Regions from separate parts of the Homo sapiens genome. Here all the other regions are linked to region 2. The links come from fine-mapping of genetic effects on gene expression. A gene starts in region 2. Each other region holds a variant in brackets. All regions are shown on one strand. Distances are between the middles of the regions. Region 1 overlaps ZBTB38 (zinc finger and BTB domain containing 38). Region 2 holds the start of ZBTB38 (zinc finger and BTB domain containing 38). Region 3 overlaps ZBTB38 (zinc finger and BTB domain containing 38). Region 4 holds the start of LOC124906291 (a long non-coding RNA gene).

What was found.
Region 1: its variant is fine-mapped to the expression of ZBTB38 in whole blood (TOPMed, PIP 0.99).
Region 3: its variant is fine-mapped to the expression of ZBTB38 in whole blood (INTERVAL, PIP above 0.99).
Region 4: its variant is fine-mapped to the expression of ZBTB38 in whole blood (TOPMed, PIP above 0.99).

The regions. Positions count from the first base shown.
Region 1 is chr3:141,436,924-141,442,074 of GRCh38, forward strand. The region is part of intron 5 of ZBTB38 (zinc finger and BTB domain containing 38); the gene reads left to right. Among named protein-coding and RNA genes, the nearest start is that of RASA2, 48 kb to the right of the region's middle. The variant G/T (reference allele first, on the strand shown) is at 2,447.
Region 2 is chr3:141,365,514-141,370,664 of GRCh38, forward strand. ZBTB38 (zinc finger and BTB domain containing 38) reads left to right here and starts at 2,991. Exons shown (of 6, transcript NM_001376113.1): 1 at 2,991-3,291; 2 at 4,359-4,433. RefSeq lists enhancers at 1,790-2,565, 2,393-3,592, 2,658-2,887, 3,342-4,117.
Region 3 is chr3:141,406,280-141,411,430 of GRCh38, forward strand. The region is part of intron 5 of ZBTB38 (zinc finger and BTB domain containing 38); the gene reads left to right. Among named protein-coding and RNA genes, the nearest start is that of ZBTB38, 40 kb to the left of the region's middle. RefSeq lists an enhancer at 3,528-3,617. The variant A/G (reference allele first, on the strand shown) is at 2,884.
Region 4 is chr3:141,455,800-141,460,950 of GRCh38, forward strand. It overlaps LOC124906291 (a long non-coding RNA gene), which reads right to left and starts at 86. Exons shown (of 2, transcript XR_007096120.1): 1 at 1-86. RefSeq lists an enhancer at 1-422. The variant A/G (reference allele first, on the strand shown) is at 2,204.

The DNA of each region.
Region 1 (5,151 bases), 71 kb after region 2:
GGGCCTCCTTTGGTCTGCAGATTTAGAACTCATTTCCTTGTTGCACTTTGGACCTGTGAAATAGCTTTTAGCCGTAGCACTTTCTGAGATCATCCAATGAGCTGGATAACTGTGCTCTAAAGACAGTTTTGACGATACTTGGTGGTTTTGGGAGCGGGCACTGTTAAGATTGGAGAGGTGGATACTAGAGTCTTAACTTTAAATTGCTTCTCCAACAAGTTTCACTGCTTTTTTTCAAGTTCCATTCGCAGATTTGGACTCTTTGTTTTAAGCAGTTGCATTGACTCCTGGATTATAAACTTCTTGAGGGCATGAAACTCTGACTCTGTCTCTTTCTGCCTGAAGTTCCCTTTTCTCCTCTTGTCCATATCTGCAGCACTCAATTCCAGCAGCAGGATCCAGTACATACCACGTCCTTCTGCCTCCCTTACTCTCTGTTGAACTCCCATACCTTTTCCCTGCATGCCTGATCCTGGATGTTCCCTGGGTATCTTTGTTTTGCAGTGTTTCATGAGCACATCTTAGTTCCCCTGCCACCCTGCAAACCTTTGAGTGTAGAATTTTTGTTTCTCTTATGGCACTGAGTTTTAGTGTCAGCCCTTAGAACGGTTCTGGCTGGTTGATTAAAAACTACCTGAAATAAGGTGCTCCTCTGGAACAAGGTGGGAAGGAGACTTTCCAATGTTTACTTTGTGTGCTTTTTCAATTTGATAATTATATGTATGTATTACTTATTCACAAGAGAAATTAAGGTATAAAAATACATATGGATTCCAGGGTCTCACTCCAGCTGTTCTAAACCAGAATCTCTATAGGAGCAGGGGAGGTGGAATCTGTAAAGCTGTACTATCTGAATACCTCCCAGGTGATTTTGATGCCTGACCAGGTTTAGGAACCAATGTCTCAAAGCACATAATAGGTATTCAGTAAGCATTCGTTCAAAGGAGGGATGAACGCTTGCCTTTCTTTTTTCTTTTTCTTTTTCTTTTATTTATTTATTTTTTTTGAGATGGAGTCTCGCTCTGTTGCCCAGGCTGGAGTGCAGTGGCGCAATCTTGGCTCACTGCAATCTCTGCCTCCTGGGTTCAAGCAATTCTTCTGCCTCAGCCTCCCGAGTAGCTGGGACTACAGGCGCACGCCACTATGCCCAGCTGATTGAACGCATGTCTTTCTATAGCACTTAGCTGATGCCTTCTGCCTAGCAATTGTTCAATAAATATTTGTTAAGAGAATTAAATTTTGAATTCAGATGCCATCACCACCTCCAACACCCCATCCCACTTTCTTTCTTTTTTTTTTTTCTTTTTTCTTCTTTTGAGACGGAGTTTCGCTCTTGTTGCCCAGGCTGGAGTACAATGGCGCAATCTTGGCTCACCACAACCTCCGCCTCCCGGGTTCAAGCAGTTCTTCTCTCTCAGCCTCCCGAGTAGCTGGGATTACAGGTATGTGCCACCATGCCCGGCTAATTTTGTATTTTGAGAAGAGACGGGGTTTCACCATGTTGGTGAGGCTGGTCATGAACTCCCAACCTCAGGTGATCCACCTGCCTCGGCCTCCCAAAGTGCTGGGATTACAGGCATGAGCCACCACGCCTGGCCCACCCCATCCCACTTTATTAGCTGGGAAGTGGAGTCATCTGTTCTTCCCCAGGCTCTCACTCTGTCTGGGGTGGATAGCTACTTTTTACCTGGACCACTGTGATGGCCTATTGGTCTCCTGCCTGCAGCCTGCCTCCCTCTGAGCCTTTCAGCATACTGCAGGCTGCGTGATTTTTTTTTAAAAAAGCTCAAATTTCATTATAACTCTCAATGGTTCCCTATTCCCTGCAATATAAAATTTAACTGTAGGGAGTCCTTTAGGGCCCTTTATGATCTGGTCTGACCCTTCTTTCCCAAGCTCTCTCATTCAACAGATACATGCTGAGGCCTGCCATGTGCCTGGCCCCACATAGACGCTGTCGACTGGGCTGCACACACTACTCCTGCTACCACTCAGACTCCCTCATTAGCCCCTGAGAACAGTACCCACTTTGATCATTTTTAATTTTTTTTTTTTTTTTGCCTATAGTGTTCCTTCTGCTTACAGCATCCTTCCTATACCCCTGTTTTACTTATTTATGGAAGTAATCCAGGGCCTCTGTAAATAATTGTACTTACTCTTCTAACATTTTATACTTATCTCCAGTATATGGCCTGCCATCATGGATTCCAATGATTAGTTGACAGTTCTCTTTCTTCCCCTAGACTCTGGGCTCCTTGAGAGCAGAGACTTGCCTTCCTCCTGTTCATATCTCCAGTATAACTCTAGCACCCAAGTACTGTGTCTGACCATATTAACATATTTGCTGGATAAAGTTGTTAAAAGGTGTGTCAAGAAGGCAAATCAAGGTGCTACTTATTAACTATGATTTTTAAAGGCTTTCTGACACACAAAGGTAGATATCCCC[G/T]CTGAAAAATGTCATGCTTGGATTTTGCAAAGTTATGACAATATTTTAATGACATATATAATGATATTTATTGTATATGTTGTTCTGTTAAGTATGACTACAATATTATTCCATGTTAAGAGTTGGCCTTTTGCTAACCATCCTAGTTGAACAATCTGAGAGAAGAATCAGAACCCCACAGAAGTGGTTGGGGCTTTGTATATTATAAATCTGAGTCAGGACACCCTAGAGTGTTCATTAGCCTGATTTGAAATGCCGTATTCCGCAAATGGAAGCAGAGCCTAAAGGGAGGTTCAGGATGCTGTGAAGCAGAATGTTTTGGAAGAAGCAGTAGTTTTGAACTGGAAAGACAAAATAGATGATGTCAGCATAGACCTAAGCCACCTTTTTGAATCATATAGCATGTGTTTTGTCAGATCTGAAGCTATCTAGTCAGGCTGATAAAGAATTAAAATAACATGTGGGCTTCCAAGAAGCCAAACATGATAAAAATATATGAGTCAGGGGAGAAAGGAGATCCTACAGGGGCCCAGAGCCGAGAGACTTGAAAGAAGGCAAAAGAAACATCAGCAAAGTATGCTATTGATCTGTGACCCAGTGAAGGACAGACTCCTTCACTCCGGGGTCACCCTTTCTCCCTTCAGGGGCAAAGAGGAAGTCATAAGATTCCATTTCATTTCATTCTAGTTTTATTTGTAGAAATAATCCCCCATACTTCTAGAAAAGATTCATGGAAGATTACAGTTAAAGGCAGGGTAAACAAGAGCAGAAGAACTAATGTTAAATAAAGAAAATGAAACAATAGGCACACCAGAAACCCAGGCCAAGAATAGCTACAACAATTGATGATAAAAGTTAGTTCTGAGCTTCTTTGTCTTGAGAATTAAAACAGAAACATGGTGAATATAGTGTTCTCATTATCTGAATTGAAGAATTTGTTAGTAGAAAGGTACTTTTTTCCTATGACTGGATACAATAAAAGAATTTATCAAATGGATCCTTGTATAAAGGACACTAAATAACATAATAGTCACAGCTTATAATAGCAGCTTTACAAAAAGGTAGAGAGGTTCTTTGTGTGGCCATCTGGTCCATCCAACTAAATAAATGCCATGAGCTAAATGTTATACTTTACTGCTAGGAAAACATTGCCACTGAGAGTTAAAGAAGTATCATCAAACTGTAAGGCTTTCTGGAGACGTCTCTTAATACAGAATAGCACAGAGAGACTGGATGAATCTCTGGTTAGTATGTTCTGTAGACCAGAGGGTTTTTTTGTGTGTGTGTTTTGTTTGTTTGTTTTGCTTTACTTTTAACTGCATGTGGTGATCTATTACTGGGTAGTGAAATTAGTGAGTTGCTGTAAGCATTCTTTAAAAGAAAAGGCTGGGTGCAGTGGCTCACACCTGTAATCCCAGCACTTTGGGAGGCTGAGGCGGGCAGATCACGAGGTCAAGAGATCGAGACCATCCTGGCCAACATGGTGAAACCCCGTCTCTACTAAAAATACAAAAATTAGCTGGGCGTGGTGGCATGCACCTGTAGTCCCAGCTACTCGGGAGGCTGAGGCAGGAGAGTCGCTTGAACCCTGGAGCCGGAAGTTGCAGTGAGCTGAGATCATGCCATTGCACTCCAGCCTGGTGACAGAGCGAGACTCAATCTCAAAAAAAAAAAAAAAAAAGAAAAGAAAAAGAAAGAAAAGAAAAATACTAGAGCAGAACAGAATGCATCACACCTAGTAAGGGTGAGTGTTAATTTCATTTGTGTCTTAGGTCACTATGTACTGTGTATCTCTTACTGTGGGAAGTATGAAAGCTGCTACTTTTCACTGCCCCTCACTATAATATCAGTTAGTAAGCTTTAGCACACCAGACTCATGGAATAGGACTTATATAGAGAATATAGAAAATACAGAGAAGAATGGAGATGGGATCCTCAGACCAGAACAAGAGCCACTGTGCCTTGAAGTTGTGCTAATTCAGGAATCTATGACTAGATTCATTCTTGTCCGTTCTTGTCAAAGGACTTAGAAATGTCCTTTCCTGGTTTTACATTTTGTCTCCTTTTTAGTTGCCTTCAGTACCTGACAGTTCTTTTTGAAAACCCTAGTCTACTTTGTCTCTACTAAAGGGGAAACTAGAAAAGGAACCTGATGAGTCACCATAGGGCCAATAGCGCAGAGAGGCGGGGGTGCCCCTGGTGGTCAGACTTGGTTACACACCCTGCAACTCTAGAGATTGACCCTTATGAGCCACAAATTAGGAAGGGCTCCTTCAGTTCTTGCTTCTTCTCTGAGTGGGCAATAGCTTTGCATATAGGTACCACTTAAGGAAAATTCATTTAAAAAAATAGCCTGGGCAACATAGCGAAACCCTGTCTCTACCAACAATACAAAAATTAGCCGGGCGTGGTGGCTCTCACCTGTGGTCCCAGCTATTCAGGAAGCTGAGGTGAGAGAATCGCTTGAGCCGGGGAAGTGGAGGTTGCAGTGAGCGGAGACCACACCACTGCACTCCAGCCTGGGCAACAGAGCGAGACTTTGTCTCAAAAAAAAAAAAATCATTTTCCTGCTTCATGGTTGTGACTGGATCATCAGATTTCTCTTTGAAAATAGGCAGGAAGCTTCTGGCAGGACCATGGCATTGCCCAGCTCTAGTAGTTCAAAGCAGCAGCCTTGAATGATGATGAGACCCTTAACATTTCAG
Region 2 (5,151 bases):
ACCAATTAATCCATTAATCCATGAGTGGATTAACCACCTCTGAAAGACCCCACCTCTCAGTACTGCCATATTGGAGATTAAATTTCAACATGAGTTTTGGAGAGGACAAATATTTGAACCATATATTGTATGATTCCATTTGTAGAAAATGTCCAGAAGAGGAAAATCTATAGAGACAGAAACTAGATGAGTGGTCATCTAGGGCTGGTAGGTGGGGACAAATGAAGAATGATACCTAATAAGCATGGTGTTTTTTGGGGTGGTGACAAAAAGTGTTAAAAAAAAATAGATTACAAATTACATAATTCTGTAAATACACTAAAACCCATTGAATTGTACACTTTAAGTGAGTGAACTTTCTGATATGTAAATTATACCTTAATAATTTTTTTTAAAGAGAGGGAATAAAATGAGAGAAATCTAAGTCAACAAGTATAGACAAGTCTTCCAAGGAATTCCTTGCATTCATAAAGGTTTGGTTTTAATTACCAGCATTTAACTGCATTTGTTGTAGCAAAGGAGGAGGATGCTCCACTTCACGTAGAGACCAGGGAAGTGCCATTGTACTTACTTCTCTGTATCTCCAAGTGGATATTTTTCCCAGTTCTCTGATTTTATTTTCACTGTTAGTATCAACCCCAGAGCATATAACCCAAGAATCTGTGTCTCACTTAAGCTTACTGATCATTTCTGCTTCTTTTCTTTATTTTTCTGTTCACATTATCCTGATAGGATGCAGGGTGAAGAAATAATCAGCCTCTGTTCATCTTATTAGAGAAATAAATACCTGTGTATATGAAGCAAGCAAGGCCACTGAGTCTTTGGGGAAACAGAGCAGGGAGGTGCCCAGAGGCATTTTCTGCAGAGAAGGAAGAAAAGAATAAACAAGTCTTCTGCCAAAAATGCCTGGAACTTAAAGCGATTTCCTCAGCCCAAGATCAGGCTGTGTGCAGACACTGACAGTGAACCTGATCAGTTGCTGCTGCTCCCTTGATTAAAAGCATGTAGCTTTCTCTCTTGTGAAATTCACCTCTATAAATTCCACCTGCCTAGGGATTCAAACTACATGGAACAAGTGCAATTCCTCAGAGTGGCAACTGGCAGAGCTCCCAGGAACAAGGTAGAACTACACAATGTCCCAGGCATCAGAGGCATAGATTGCCTGAGTCAGGGAGAGTGGTCTCTGTGACCTGACACCCCACCCACAGTGGGAAGGAAAGCTGTGGGTGTGTTATCAAGGAGGCCTCCACAAGGGGCTGGAAATTCCTGGTTTTGTCTTCCTCTTGGAATGAGACATTTACTCTAAGAGAATCATGGAAAAGTACAAACCACAGAATCATAAACCACAGAGGGAGAAGCTACCTCGTAGGTCATTCTTATGCTGGGCCCAGATACCCCGATAAGCAGATGTTCTCTTCTCACCACCCCTCCTCGCCTTTGCTTGCCCACAGCCATTGCCAGGACTCTTCCTCAGGCCCAGAAAGGCAGCTGATTCCTGGTAGGAGGGCGCTAAGAGTAGAAAGTAACTACCATTGTCAGGTCCAGATCTGTTCCCAATCCCTTCTCACTCCTCCTGCACTCTAAAACCACACCACAGTTCCAACTCTTTCTGAGTCTGGAATCTTTGAGAGTGCCGTCATGTCCTTCTTCCTGTAGCCTTCTTGTCCACCCCAGATGGACTGACCCTCCCACCTACATCCATGAGGCCAGAAGGCAACAAAGACAAGCGTGGACTCTGGCTCCCGCCGAGGTACTCTGTACCCCGTGGCTCTCGGATTTTGCATCTACCACATGCCACAGGCTTGCGTCCATCCGACCTCCCTAGTTTCTCATCCCCACTTGAACCTGATGACTGATTCGCCCTCCTGGCTACGCTGAGTAAGCCACCCACTTGCCAAACCTCAGACCTGGTGTTGACGCAGTAAGAAGGCATGAGGCCCATGTTGCCAGAACATTCCTAATTGTTTCATTGTTTCCTTGTAGGATGTGGTTTCAAGTCCCATCTTTGTCTCTTTTCTCCTGGCCAGGTTGCCCTTGGTCAATATTCCTTCATTCACTCCAGCCACTCAGCACCGTGATTAAGAAAACAGGATGTGAGATTAGATGATCCAGGCTCTGCCATGAACTAACTAGCTGTGAGGCTTTAGAGAAGTGTCTTAACCTCTCTGAGCATCCATTTCTTTCTCTATAGCATTAGGAATATTAATAGTACCTACCTCACAGCTTTTTTGTTGTGATAATACCAATAAATGAAATAATCTTCATAAAGCACAGAGGCTTGAATGTTCACTCTAAGTATTTAATATGTGTCCTCTACTATTTTATTTTACAATTATCATTCCTTAATTCATCATATAATTACCAAGCCTCATGCCAGGCACTGAGATATAAATATCCCCTTTAAAGAGTGGTCATGTCTTAAATCCAGGAAGAGCTAGTTCATGTTGGCACCCAGGGTAGGGAGCGAAGCCCAGGGCCACAGCACAGAGGCAGAGGAGAATAGACACTGACCACCAGGAGCTGCCCGGGGATGGTGACAAAAGTGCCTTCCACCTTTCCGCATCTCTTTCAATACCACTGCAACTCCTTGAGTAAGGTGGGCACCACACAGAAGAAGGGGGATGGCAGAGGGGCAGTGAGAGGTCCCCAGGGAAACACCCTCTTCTTCTTCCCTGCTTCTCTGACAGAGCACGGCCATGCCTCTGCCATGCAGGAGGGTGATGTCCTTTGGGGAGGCCTTGTTGAATCTGTCTGGGGCTGTTCCGGAAGTAGGAAGGGCGGCTGGGGGTGGGGAGACGGCAGGAATGTTCTCCTGGCCTGCTGGTCTGTGCCGGCGAGTGTGCTGAGAGGAGGGCCTCTGGACATCAAAGGTTCCTTTTGTCCCCTTCCGAGTGGCAGGGCAGCCCGGCCCGGGCTGCTGGCGATGACTCAGGCCTGGCCCTGACGTCACCCACGCCCGGCCACTGGCCTCCCTCTGAAGCCAGGAAACTAGTTGGGGAGTGGCACTCGCAGCTGCAGCAAATCTCAAAATAAAGAGGCAACGGCCTTTCTCTTCCTCTCCATCTCCCTATAGCACACCTTTTATTTCTTTTCTTCTTTTTTTTAAGCCTCACGAAAGATTTTACTTGTAGATCAACTTTCAAAATGTAGGAAGTCAGAATGGGTGACATCATCAGAAAAATATGTGGAGCTGATCACAAGAAGTGAAGAACCCAGAGCACGAAAGCGGTTGTGACTCCTGGGCCCAGGGAGTTGACAGCGTCTGGGTTTCAGAGGAGCCAGCGCCTCCGAGTAAGTGAAGGCCCACTTTTGGCCCCCCCTCACTCAGCGCCCTTCACCGTAGGGCGCCATCTTGTTCCCTGACGCCTACAGCTTGCCAAGCCCCAGCCCAGAGTTGGGAGTAGGGACTGCATTTGGGAGACCCTCTAAATACGGCCCCAAAGGGATCTGATATCTCTCTCCACAGGATCAGAAAAGAATGCAAAAAAAAAAAAAAAAAACAATACTAAGACGGAAACCCTGGGGAGAACAGCCCAACTGATGCCTTTCCCTGTCAACCCTCTTGTTTTGCCTCCTCTTCCTCCCCTCACCTGAGTATTCCGTTTCAGGCTGTCAGAATGTTTGTTCAGAGTTCTGGATTGTTTGCTTCCTAGATCTTATACTGAGCGATCAGACATAAAAATAAACCCTGTTCTAGGCAAATACGTGTCCTGTGCCATCAAATGGTATTTTCACACTTAACCTGGTAAAATATGACAGCCCTGGTAAAAAGATGTACATAATTGTGCTGCCTTTACTGAGCACGTTTCTGATTGTTCTGTGTATGAACCTCCATTATCTTATCGCCCTGTTTACAGAGGACTTATTTTCATTCCTACTTGTGCCATCGTATCTGGGATGATATTAAGCACAAAGACACAATGTGTCTGTTTTAACTTTGTCTAAAAACTCATAGTTCTTTACAAAGCCTATAATTTCACGACCTCTGGAAGTTCCTACCCAAGAAAGTTAAGTTCCCAAGAGAAAAGTTTTGACACATACATGAGAACAGCACGTAGGCATAGAAATCATACCCTGATTTTCCCGGCTTCTAAGTCATCCCCTGAGTCAGCATCTAGTCTTCGTATAGCTGACGTACCAGGGGAGATCTGTTCTTCAGAAATTCTATGTTAAAATGACTGGGAGCGGGGAGGCGTAAGTCTCATTTTAAAGGCAGTAAGGAAGCTTGTCATTTACTGGAAAACAGTGGCATATTCCTTTGTAAATGGACAACTCCCTTTGGAAATTAACTATCACACACTAAAATATCTGTTTTATAGGCCTTATGTTTTACTTTTTGTTTTACTTTAATATATTAGGTTGTCTTGAAGTGAGGCTCTGCTGTAGTCCTGTTCTTCTGGCTCTAAGATCTGAATGTTGTGACCACTAATTTGGTAAGTGTCATTTGTCCCCAACAGCTACTTAAATTTAAGTCTCCCAATTCTCCTTTTTTAGTTTGTGGTAAGATTCAAAGAAAAGGGGAAAGGGCACAGAGATTTCTGTACACAATGATTACAGCTATATTAAAAAGGATATTAGGATAGGCTAATTGTTATAATAGAACCCCAAATCTATAATGGCTCAAACACAATAGTTTATTTCTTGCTCATGTAACAGTACAGGTCAGTGGGGCAACTGTCTTTCATGCATTCATTCAGAGACACAGGTAGAGAGGGGCTTTGCCTTCTGCAGCATGTGGTTTTCAAGGTCGCCTAGGGGTGTCTCCACTCCTCAGTGCAGTAAGAAAAGAGCATGAAAAAGTGCACATGGGAGTTTTTTATGGGCTCTGCCTAGAAGTGGTGCGTGTTACTTCTACTCACATTCCATTGGCTAAAACTCCATCACATGACCACAGCTAACCACAGAGGAGTCTGGGAAATGTAGTCCTTGGTGGAGCAGCCACTTAGCAGTGACAGCTCTGGAGGGGTTTCTGAAGAAGAGGTAGTTCTCTCTGGCACAGCACATAAAAGAAACTTGGAGATACTCAAGGATAAAGTTGCATAGAAACAGTGGGAGAAGTAAACAATTATCCACATTTAGGTTTTCCTGACTGACACTCTTAGGTAACATCTGGCCATGAGGGCAAGATGCAATGGATGAGATTTCTCAACA
Region 3 (5,151 bases), 41 kb after region 2:
GCAGAAACTAGAGGCCAGAAAGCCAGTTAAGCTACTACAACCCACCAAGGAAAAAGAGGGGCAGAAAAGGCCTGAAATGGATGATAACAATGAAATGGGAAAGGAATAGATGCAAAGGGAAGAACTGACAGAATCTGATGTCTCAGTGAAGGAACAGCTAAAGCTGACACTGCGATTTCCAGAGCAGTGGTACCCATGGAGGAAACTCAGAAGGAGGTAAGGAGCTACATTTTAGAGGTGCTGTGTTTGCAGTGTTGAAGCATGCTGTCTCCCAGGCAGAAGGGGGCTTTGCGCTCCACAAGAAGGCCAGGGCTCATTTGGGAGTCTTTGGTTTATAAGAAAAAGTCAAGAGATGGGAAAAGAGATTTTTGAGAGAGAATATAGGGGAAAAATGGTTGAGGATGGAGCCTTTTGAGAAAAGAAAGGAAGATCTAGGGAAGCAGATAGAAGTCTGGCAAGATAGTAAGGAAGAACCATGGAGGAATGCAACTCCAGAAGCCAGCGGAAGGGGGTTCCTAATGGAGGGAGCCAGGCATGTCAGACCGTGGAAGGTGAGGGATGAGCTTAGGAAGACTGGTGGATTCACAAGTGCAAAGTTACATTGTTGGTGTTTTCCTTTTTAAGGTAATATGACGTGTATGATGAATATTAAGTGGTTTAATTTACACAAATTAAACCACTCAAATTTACACAAATCAAGAATCACTCTTAAATTTGTCCCCGGCAAGTCCCAAAACACATTTCTGATTATGAAAATTCAGGCTGTTAAATGTGGTTTTGATAGTAGTCATACACTGTATTCTGTTGTCAGCATACAAATTAAAGAATATCCCTTAATAGAATTGAGTCCTTTAAAAAATACATTTCTGTTGACTCAAAAAGTTTCTAACAGTAATGTAATTCCATTGCCTTTTACCATATGGCTATTGTATGACATGTGCGTGTCTGCGCATTTTCACGTGCATATGAGCTTAGTACAATGGAATGAGGAGACCGGGGTCAGATAAATCTAGTTTCACAACCTAGCTGGGCCACTTTCCAGACTTGTGACTTTAGAAGAGTTTCTCTCTAAGCCTGACTTTTTCCATGCATAACTCATATAGGATTATTTGGAAGACTAATTAATACATAATTTGGTCAGGATTTCTATATACCATAGTAGGTAATTAATTAATATTGGTTCCCTTCCCCTCACAACCTTGTATAGATATGTAAATTTATATATTGTGCATCTACACGTAAAGCCTTATCTTTAAGACTCATTTTAATTTTTAATTTTATCACAGAAAGCACACATCTCCTATTACCACTGATTTATTCTGGGTTAGTCCCAGTGATCATCAATTTAGTATGGACAAGAATCCACCTGGGGAACTTGTCAAAATGTAGATTCCCAGGTGGGGCAAGGGAATCTGCATTTTAAACAGCACTGTCATGGCTGGTGACGAAGATTAACAATTGCCAATTTCTGCGAAGCAGAGGAAGAGATAAACCTGAGATTTGAGATGCTAGTTTCAACTCCTGTTTCTACTAGAGATATGTCTATACTCAAAATTTTTATATCATTAATGTTAATGGATTATATGCATAATCAGACAAAAACAAATACGTTCCAGAGAGTCAGGGAATGGTGGTATTATTGCACCCTCCCACCCCGCATCATCTCATTGCTCTCTGCTGTGTGATCACAGTACTGGGTAACAAGCTGCCTGCAAACCAGTTTCTTTTTCTGGGGAATAAGTGATGACACCCTGTCCCCATGGCCAGAGTTTGCAAAACCATTGTAACTTGTTTGTTAGCAATATGTGACAACACTACAGTCATGCCATTAAAGTATTCTACATGACTCTGTCTTCTGGTGGATAAACATCTCTGTCATTGTATTATTTCCCTCAATCTCTGCATCTTAAAGTCACTTAATTTTTAGGCTAAAGTTCATATTCTTCATCTATCCCAACTCCATTTTATAGATGAAAAAATCATTTGGCTGGGCACAGTGGCTCATGCCTGTAATCCCAGCACTGTGGGAGGCCAAGGCTGATGGATGACCTGAGGTCAGGAGTTCGGGACCAGCCTGGCCAACGTGGCAAAACCCCATCTCTACTGAAAATACAAAAATTAGCCAGGCATGGTGGCGCACACCTGTAGCCCCAGCTACTTGTGAGGCTGAGGCAGGAGAATCACTTGAACCTGGGAGGTAGAAGTTGCAGTGAGCTGAGATCGCACCACTGCACTCCAGCCTGGGTGATAGAGCAACACTCCATCTCAAAAAAGAAAAAAAAAAAGAATGTATCATTTTTTTCTTCCTAATTCTAGCTTCCCTCTTTGTTTATTCACAACAAAGGATTGAGATATATAGACATGTTTGGTGTTTAACTTAGATATGGAAAGTATAAAACATTTGACATGTATATGGAATTGCTCTTTATGTTCTCTATACATAGTTTAGAAATCAGATGACTTATTGGGAATATATTTATGAAAACTATATTGAGTCATTTTAAAACGATGTCAGCATCCTCTTGCTGGTTTGCCTCTTTGGAGGAGGATGCTGATGGCCTGGAGCCTTTCCTAGAAACAGAGTTTCTCTCTCTATACCCACAGCTCCCAAGGAAAGAGGATGGAACTGACATTCATGGAGTTAGGTCTGTACCTTATATGCATTATCTCAGCCATCTTTTAGAACCTCAGACAACATGGTGTGGCAAGTGAAGCAAAAAGAAACTCAACTACAGCCAAGATTGTAGAGATGGGAGTTTATTTTTTTTTAATTATTATTTTTTAAGACGGAGTTTTGCTCTTGTTGCCCAGGCTGGAGTGCAGTGGCGCTATCTCAGCTCACTGCAACCTTTGCCTCCCGGGTTCAAGTGATTTTCCTGTCTC[A/G]GCCTCCCAAGTAGCTGGCATTACAGGCAACTGCCACCACGCCCAGCTAATTTTTGTATTTTTAGTAGAGATGGGGTTTCACCACGTTGGCCAGGCTGGTCTCAAACTCCTGACCTCAGGTGATCCACCGGCCTCAGCCTCCCAAAGTGCTGAGATTACAGACGTGAGCCACCGTGCCCATCCTGAGGTGAGATTTTTACACCCTGGGGTCTGTCTGACTCACAAGGCCAGCCTCTTCTCTCCACACTCTGGGCTGCCTCCCCAGCCACATAGTGAGAGTATGAAACAGGTATTTGTTCCTGATTTTAACTGAGAGGCTCAGAGATCCTCATCCTTAATATTATTGTAACCTCAGAATTTTTGACAAGAAGCAAATGGAGCAGAGATAATGTGCAAACTTGAATTTGTTCAGCAAATATTTACTTAGTATCAACTACGTGCCAGGTAGGAGATCAGGACCCCACCCTCATGGAGCCTCCCTATATCCCTAACCTATCCTTATCTACTGTCTGTGCTGCTGCTGCAAGCCTTTCTTTTAGAGTAAAACACCAATGGAGTTCCACACTGATCAGATCAATCAATTTGTGTCTTGCTATAGCTGTCACTGTCACTGTGCTGGGCTAAATGTTCCCAGAGCCTATACCAGTTGAAAGTTTAAAACTGCTCCTTGGGGGATTGCCCAGAGGGCTAAGTAAATGTTTGTTGATTACCCTCTGAGGCCCTGAGGAACTCTACAGGGGGCTAGGAAAATTGCCCAGAGCCCCTGCAGGGCTGGGTTGGGGTGAGAAGAAAGACATTCGTGAGAATCCAGAGGGGAGGCCTAGGAATTGTTCCCAGCATGACTTTGCTTGTTTGGTTTCCTCACCTATAACCAAAGAAGGTTTTGCTCAATGGTGGCTGTTTCCTTCCGGCTCTAAGGTGTAGTACTTTATTTTCTTTTGAGCAGAAAAGCAGAGGTGCTGGGACAAGCAGGGGCAGGGACTCAGTCTGAGGTCTCCCAGGGGTCTCAATGTAGTAGCTCCCTCCTGTCCTCATAGATATGCCGATATTAGCCAGACTTTGGGTTCTGCCTTTAACCCTCTACACTTGAGGAAAGTGCATGAATTTAAGGGTGGGAGATTGTCCACTTTTGAGGGAATGAAGACTCTTACAGAAGGATTGGGACAGGCTGGTAATCATGGTTTTCAAATTTAATGCTTACAAGGAACCTGGGAAATAAACTAGCCCGACCTCTTTGCATTCCAGATAAGAAGAGTCCAGAGAAGTCTTAGGACTTGCTCAAGGCCACATCATTAGTGGCAAAGTGGGAACAGAACCCACTGTCCTAGGCCCAGTCTGCCAGAAAAAGGCAGGTTATCAGAAGAGCAGGAGATGGCAGTCAGCAGCAAAGCTTAAAGAAGGACTGGCATTGTCCCATGAGAGCAAGCTGACCATGACATCTGCTGGGCTTCCAGCAGACACACGCAGTAGGACACCGTGATGCAAAGCTTCCGGTCCAGTTGGAGCCCTTGGGTTTTTGCCAATTAAGATAGTCAAGCAAATTTATTTTTGACCTGGGAGAGACAGAAGGCTGTTTTCCATCTTACAAAAGCATTTCTCCTCTCTTATGTAAATGAAAATTCCTAAGCTGTATTATAACTTAATATTGAAAGAAATTAAAACATTTACGCAGGGAGAGAGGAAGACCCAGCTTGCGCACCCCTATTTTTCTGGCCACTACTGTGAGTGTTCATACCAGGATGCATTTTCATGAAAAATCCAGTGGCTGTTTAAGTCCTGGAAGGGTATCTTGGGATTATTTCAGCAACCCGTGAAGGCAGGCTTTGTGCAAGGTGAGACAGATATGAGCTGTCACTTCCTGCTTTGTGAGTTGGATATTGTTTCTAGGCCCTGTTTTATTTATGTTATTTTTCCTGTTCATGTGTTAGAACAACTGACTGTTTGTAGAGTTGATGACAATTAGATAATAAGACCACCAATTCAGTCCAAACAAAGATGAATTCATTATCTTGCCAGGCAAGGGAGACCCACATATTCAGATCAGTCTCCCCATACTTTTGTGCGTTTTCATGTAAGCATGGAGATTTCCGATTAGTTTTAATAGCACAGTGATTGGCTCCTAGACACCTAAATGAGGATTTCCTTTTTGAAAAACCTACTCAGCATTCTGATCTGTCCCTGCTTAAACCTATTTAGTCTGGTCTTATAGTCCCTGACTTGAGCCCAAAGAGCAAGGTTTCTCAAGGTCTCTGTGCAGGTCTTTGATGC
Region 4 (5,151 bases), 90 kb after region 2:
GCAGGGGTTGTGGACCGAGTTTGTGATGGAGTTTCAGCGTCCACATGTGTGCCTGAGGCCCCTAGCAGCCTGGGAGGGAGCAGGGTGAGGGGAGGAGGGGATGGGAGAAGATCTGGCCCACCTCTTCCCCTGCTGTCTCGTTCCTGCAGGAAATGCCAGAAACTAGGAATTCCACATTCCAACACGGTCTTCCAGATTGCTGTGAAAGTATATTTGTCAAGGGAGGAGAACAGAATATATTTAATTAAGAACTTGCTAGCCTGGTTTATACCTTTTAAATATTTAGACACATGATATATACGCCTCCATCTGTACACTTGCTCCCCGCCTTGCGAGTGTTGAGGGGGCGGCTGTCATCACTCTCCAAAATGCCTGGCTTCTCATCACGCTGTCTGTGTATACAAGCTCCTGACCATGCTGAAACGTTCATGCCCATCCCTACCCCAGCCCCATCCACAGACGTGATCATTTCTCAATACCTAATTCAAAGGCCCCATCAAAAGCCTCTTCCTTGCAGTGTTGTGTGAGACAGCCCCTCACGCCTCTGCTTGCCTTGACCTCCAGCCCCACCACAGCTCTCTGGATTCAGCCGTTTTCAATTCTGCCTCTGCCGTCAGCCAGCGAGCTCCTCCCGGATGTTCCCAGCATCAGCATGCTGCGGTCAAATGCAAGTCATCTATGAAGTGTGCCGATTCGCCACTCCAGATGACCAACTGCCTTGGTGTGCCTCGCACTGAAGACTCTCCCAAGTTGCAAAACATTCAGTGCTAAAACTGAGACAGTCCCAGGCAAATGAGGACGATGGGTCACCCTAACGGGGAAGAGCCTCTTCAGAAAGGAAAGGAGCATCAGCAGGCATGGTAGAAGTAGAACTCACTGGCCAATTTCAGTTTCAAACAACTAATAGGACGTTCTTTCCTGAGCAGTGAGGAAACACCTAGGCCACACAGAAATCTGGCCAGGCTGCACAAGTCTGGCATGAGAAAATGGAGGGAAGAACCTTGGGACCCAATCTCCAGAGCCCTACTAAAATCCTTCAGTGATTTCACAGTCACTCCTACTTCTCTCATTTCTCTGAAAAACCTCCTGGGAAACCAAGCTCACCATACTGCTTCCAGCTGCCCACACAAGGCATTTGCCTCTCAGAATTTTTGATAGCGTCCACCCTAAAAATCAGTGAGTACAAGTCTTCCACTACATCCTGCCCAGTGTGGAGGAAAGCTACAGGTTTTCCTGCTGAGTCCTTTTCTATGTTTATGGGTGAAAGCACCTGAATTTCCTTTAGGAAAACCCCCTAACCCTCTTATTCATCAGCCACACCTTCAGACCATATCTGAAATCAGGATCAGGTGACTGGTGGCCACCTGATGGGATTGGGAAGGAAGCATATAAGCCGGTTTCTAGCACGTGTTTTTTTAAATCTCAACACAAGAATGAGGAAACTGAGTCAAGACCTTCTCCATTGCCAGAGATAGAAACCCAGTTGTTCATGATATGGGGAGGATATAGCTGGCTTTAAGCAAAACTGAATTCAAGGGCTCTAGCAAAATGATATCTCTCTCAACCCCTCACTCTCTGTCCCTTTTCTCTCTTACTTTCCTCTGCATTAGCTTCAGTCTCAGACTGGTTCTCCCCAGTTGATAGACAAAGATATCCATGCTGAGTGAAATCAAGTTCTCCAAAACAAGTGAAAACACACTCTTCAAAAAAAAAAATAAAAAGTCTTCAAAGGGAGCAGAGATATTTCTAATGATAACCTCTCAAGAGCAGAGTCTGAATCCACATCCAGGACATCTAACATCAGAGTTGACACTCAGAATCTCTACTAATATAGGGTACGCACCTCCTTTCAGGACACATTAAAGAAAAATTTATCAAAATGACCACAAAACACTCTGCATCGAGCTAAGACTAACTGAGCCAGGCACATACTTTCATCTTTATTCAGAAGAACCTGGAAAGAAGGTCTTGTTTTCACCATTTAATCAATGCAGCAAGTGAAGGCCCAAGTCCAAGGACTCTGCTGCTCTGAGTGATGACAATCCACACAGGAATGACAGCCCCAGTTTACTGACTGGCAGTTCCTCAACCTCAGATATCAACTTACTGGTGCTCAGACTACACTCTCCACATTTCCCTTCTGCCCTCACTTTGTGTGGTTCCAGGAACACCAGCCTTCACTTCTTCCTGCTTTTACCTGGCC[A/G]CTCAATGGTTTTTATGCATGAAAGCAAACATGTTAGAATAGGTGACCCAACCAGTGTGGACATGTATGAAGATCTGCCTACCTCAAGTTCCAGGAACTCGTATGATTAAGAGAAATGACTACTCTGTAATTGTAGTATAAAGAGAGATAATACATTTTTGTGTACTTGTGTATTATGTATGTATTTTAAAAGCTAATACATGTACACAGAAAAAATAATTTTCAAATACTGCAAAAGGGTACACAGAGAAAAATGGTCTCCCTCCCTCTCTGCCCCCAGGTTTCTCCCTAAAAGTATACACTGTTACCAGATCTTGGGTGTCCTTCCATAGATATCCCATGCATATCTAAGCATATATATATTTTATATATATATAATATATATATGTGTGTGTGCATTTAAACTTACAAATTTTTTCCTTTCTTTTTCTTGTTGTATATAAATGAGAGCACACTACACATGCCACTCACTACCTTATTTCATTTGTTTAACAATAGATAATGGAAAACTTTCTATGCTGGGACATATGGATCTCTTTTATTCTTTTAGTGACTGCATAGTATTCCATTGTATGAATTTGTTTAGGCTCCCTCAAATCATGGGACATTGTATGAATGTTTAACCCATTGTCTAATAATTGGCTAGCATTTGTTTCTAATCTTTTGCTTTTGTGTTTACATTTTAGACATATTTTTATAATACAGATATAAACAAAGAGAAAAAAAGTTTTCTGCTTAACTCTTATTTAACCAGAAAATATGATGAACAGAGGCCATACAATATTCTGAGGGTTCTTGGTAGTTGGAATGAAGGTAATTCCAATTCTGAGCTCTCAAGTAAAACTTTTTGGAATTCTTCTGCTGTGTATTAAATGCAAACTAAACAGAAGTTCGTGTCTTAGGGATCTTTAGTTGCTTAAGCAAAATGTGATGTTGGAAGGAAAAAAGAAACTAAGGGAGGACAGGGAAAAGCTGGAAACAGGAAGCAGAAAACTTCCCTCTCTCCACCTCTTGTCATCTCTGTGTCCCCCGTGTCACCTTTCTTCATTTCTGTCTGTGCTAATCATCAGCCTTCTCTGCCTCTCCCTGCCTGTGGATGGAAGATACTAGCCAGCCCTATAGGACCTCACAGGCAAAGGAATCCACGGCCCTCCTTCCCCACCCCCACTAAAGAGACTGGTTCTCCCATGATCTGATGAGCTCTGGTGAAAGGGACAGAGCCCTATAGTAGAAGATAGCTGCAGGGGCCCCACCCCAAGGACAAACACGGTGATCAGAGAAGGTTGGGTGGGCTGGGAATGGCCATCAAGTGCCACCACGTGGTTCCACGGGGACGAGAGCTTTGTGGACAAGGGCTGCTTAGTCAGTAACTCTGCATGAGGGACCCTCAAAGCCATCACGATGGCTTCAACTTGGCTGTCTAGCTTTCTAGCCTGGAGTATTCCATTATAGATATGTCAGGATAGGTAAGAAAAAGTTCTGCCAAGGCCTTGTCCAACAACAGCATTTCACACTTATTTGTGGGTAAGATGTGGTGTGCTGAATTGAGGAGTAGGATTCATGTATTTGTAAAGGATGCTTCAGCTCCTGTCCTCTACACACACACAAAAGTTTTGAGAGTGTTTTCACATCACCTTGTCAGATTGTAAATATGTTATTCTCAAGAAATGTCATGGATTTGTTTGGGTGACACTTGTTGTTGTTTTTGTTTTCAGACAAGGTCTTACTCTGTCGCCCAGGCTGGAGTGCAGTGGCGCGATCTCAGCTCACTGCAGCCTTGAACGCCCAGGCTCAAGCTATCCTCCCACCCCAGCCTCCTGAGTAGGTGCGATTACAGGTGCGTGCCACCAAACCCAGCTAATTTTTTTAATGTTTTGTAGAGATGGTGTCTCACCATGTTACCCAGGCTGGTCTTGAACTCCTGGGCTCAAGCAGTCCACCTGCCTTGGCCTCCTAAAGTGTTAGGATTACAGGTGTGAGCCACTGCGCCCAGCAACCCTTGTTTTGTTCTTTTTGAGAACATATTTTTAAAGAAATATGTTTAGATCTGAAAATGAGTAACGTAAAGAAGCCATATGTGTTTGAGAGAAAGTTCACTGAAGCAAGGGTAAGAATCTGTCTCAACTCCTGACTGTGTAACCCCAGCCTTTAGTGACAGTTTTAGCAGGAAAGCCCAGTCGGCCCTCTCCGTGAGCATCAGTCTTGGGGCATCTCTCTGAAGAACACTACTGAACCACACAGACTCCGAGGGAACTCCTACTCTCTGTGCACACTGGAGAGGAAAATCCTGCCAGCAGAGGTCACTGCCGTACCAGCTGGGAGTCAGCAGCGGGACAGCATCATCCCAATAAGGCTGTGCCCGCCTCTCCCCTGCCCTCTTCTTAACCTGATGGCTGCTTAGCTCATTGAAGGAGATAAATGGCAGTGTTGCACTAACCAAGTGTGCGTGGGCCATCAGCAGTTTTTTTTTTCTCAGTAGTAGGCTTTGATATCCCAAACCTAAGGGTGTTTAACATTAATACTCAGAATAAGACACACAGAGAACAGCGGGTTCTGCTTTCACCTTGGATTGTATTTTTCCGTGTTTAGCCCAATCATAAACTTAATCCACCTGCTTCTTGCCTGGATGACTGAGAGGAGACTCCCACCCCAGGACACAAGCCCGTGTGCATACACATGCACATACACACACCCCACACACACAACGTGGCCTGAGGTAACATACATAGATCCTCGTAGAGGAGGAAATGATACCATGATATGGAACCTCAAACATTTATCATTTCTTGATGTTGGGAACATTTCAAATCTTCTAGCTATTTTAAAATATACAATGAATTATTGTTAACGATAGTCACCCTACTGTGCTATTGAACACTAGAACTTACTCCTTCTAACTGTATCTTTGTACCCATTATTCAACCTCTCTGATCACCCCTGCTTCCCAG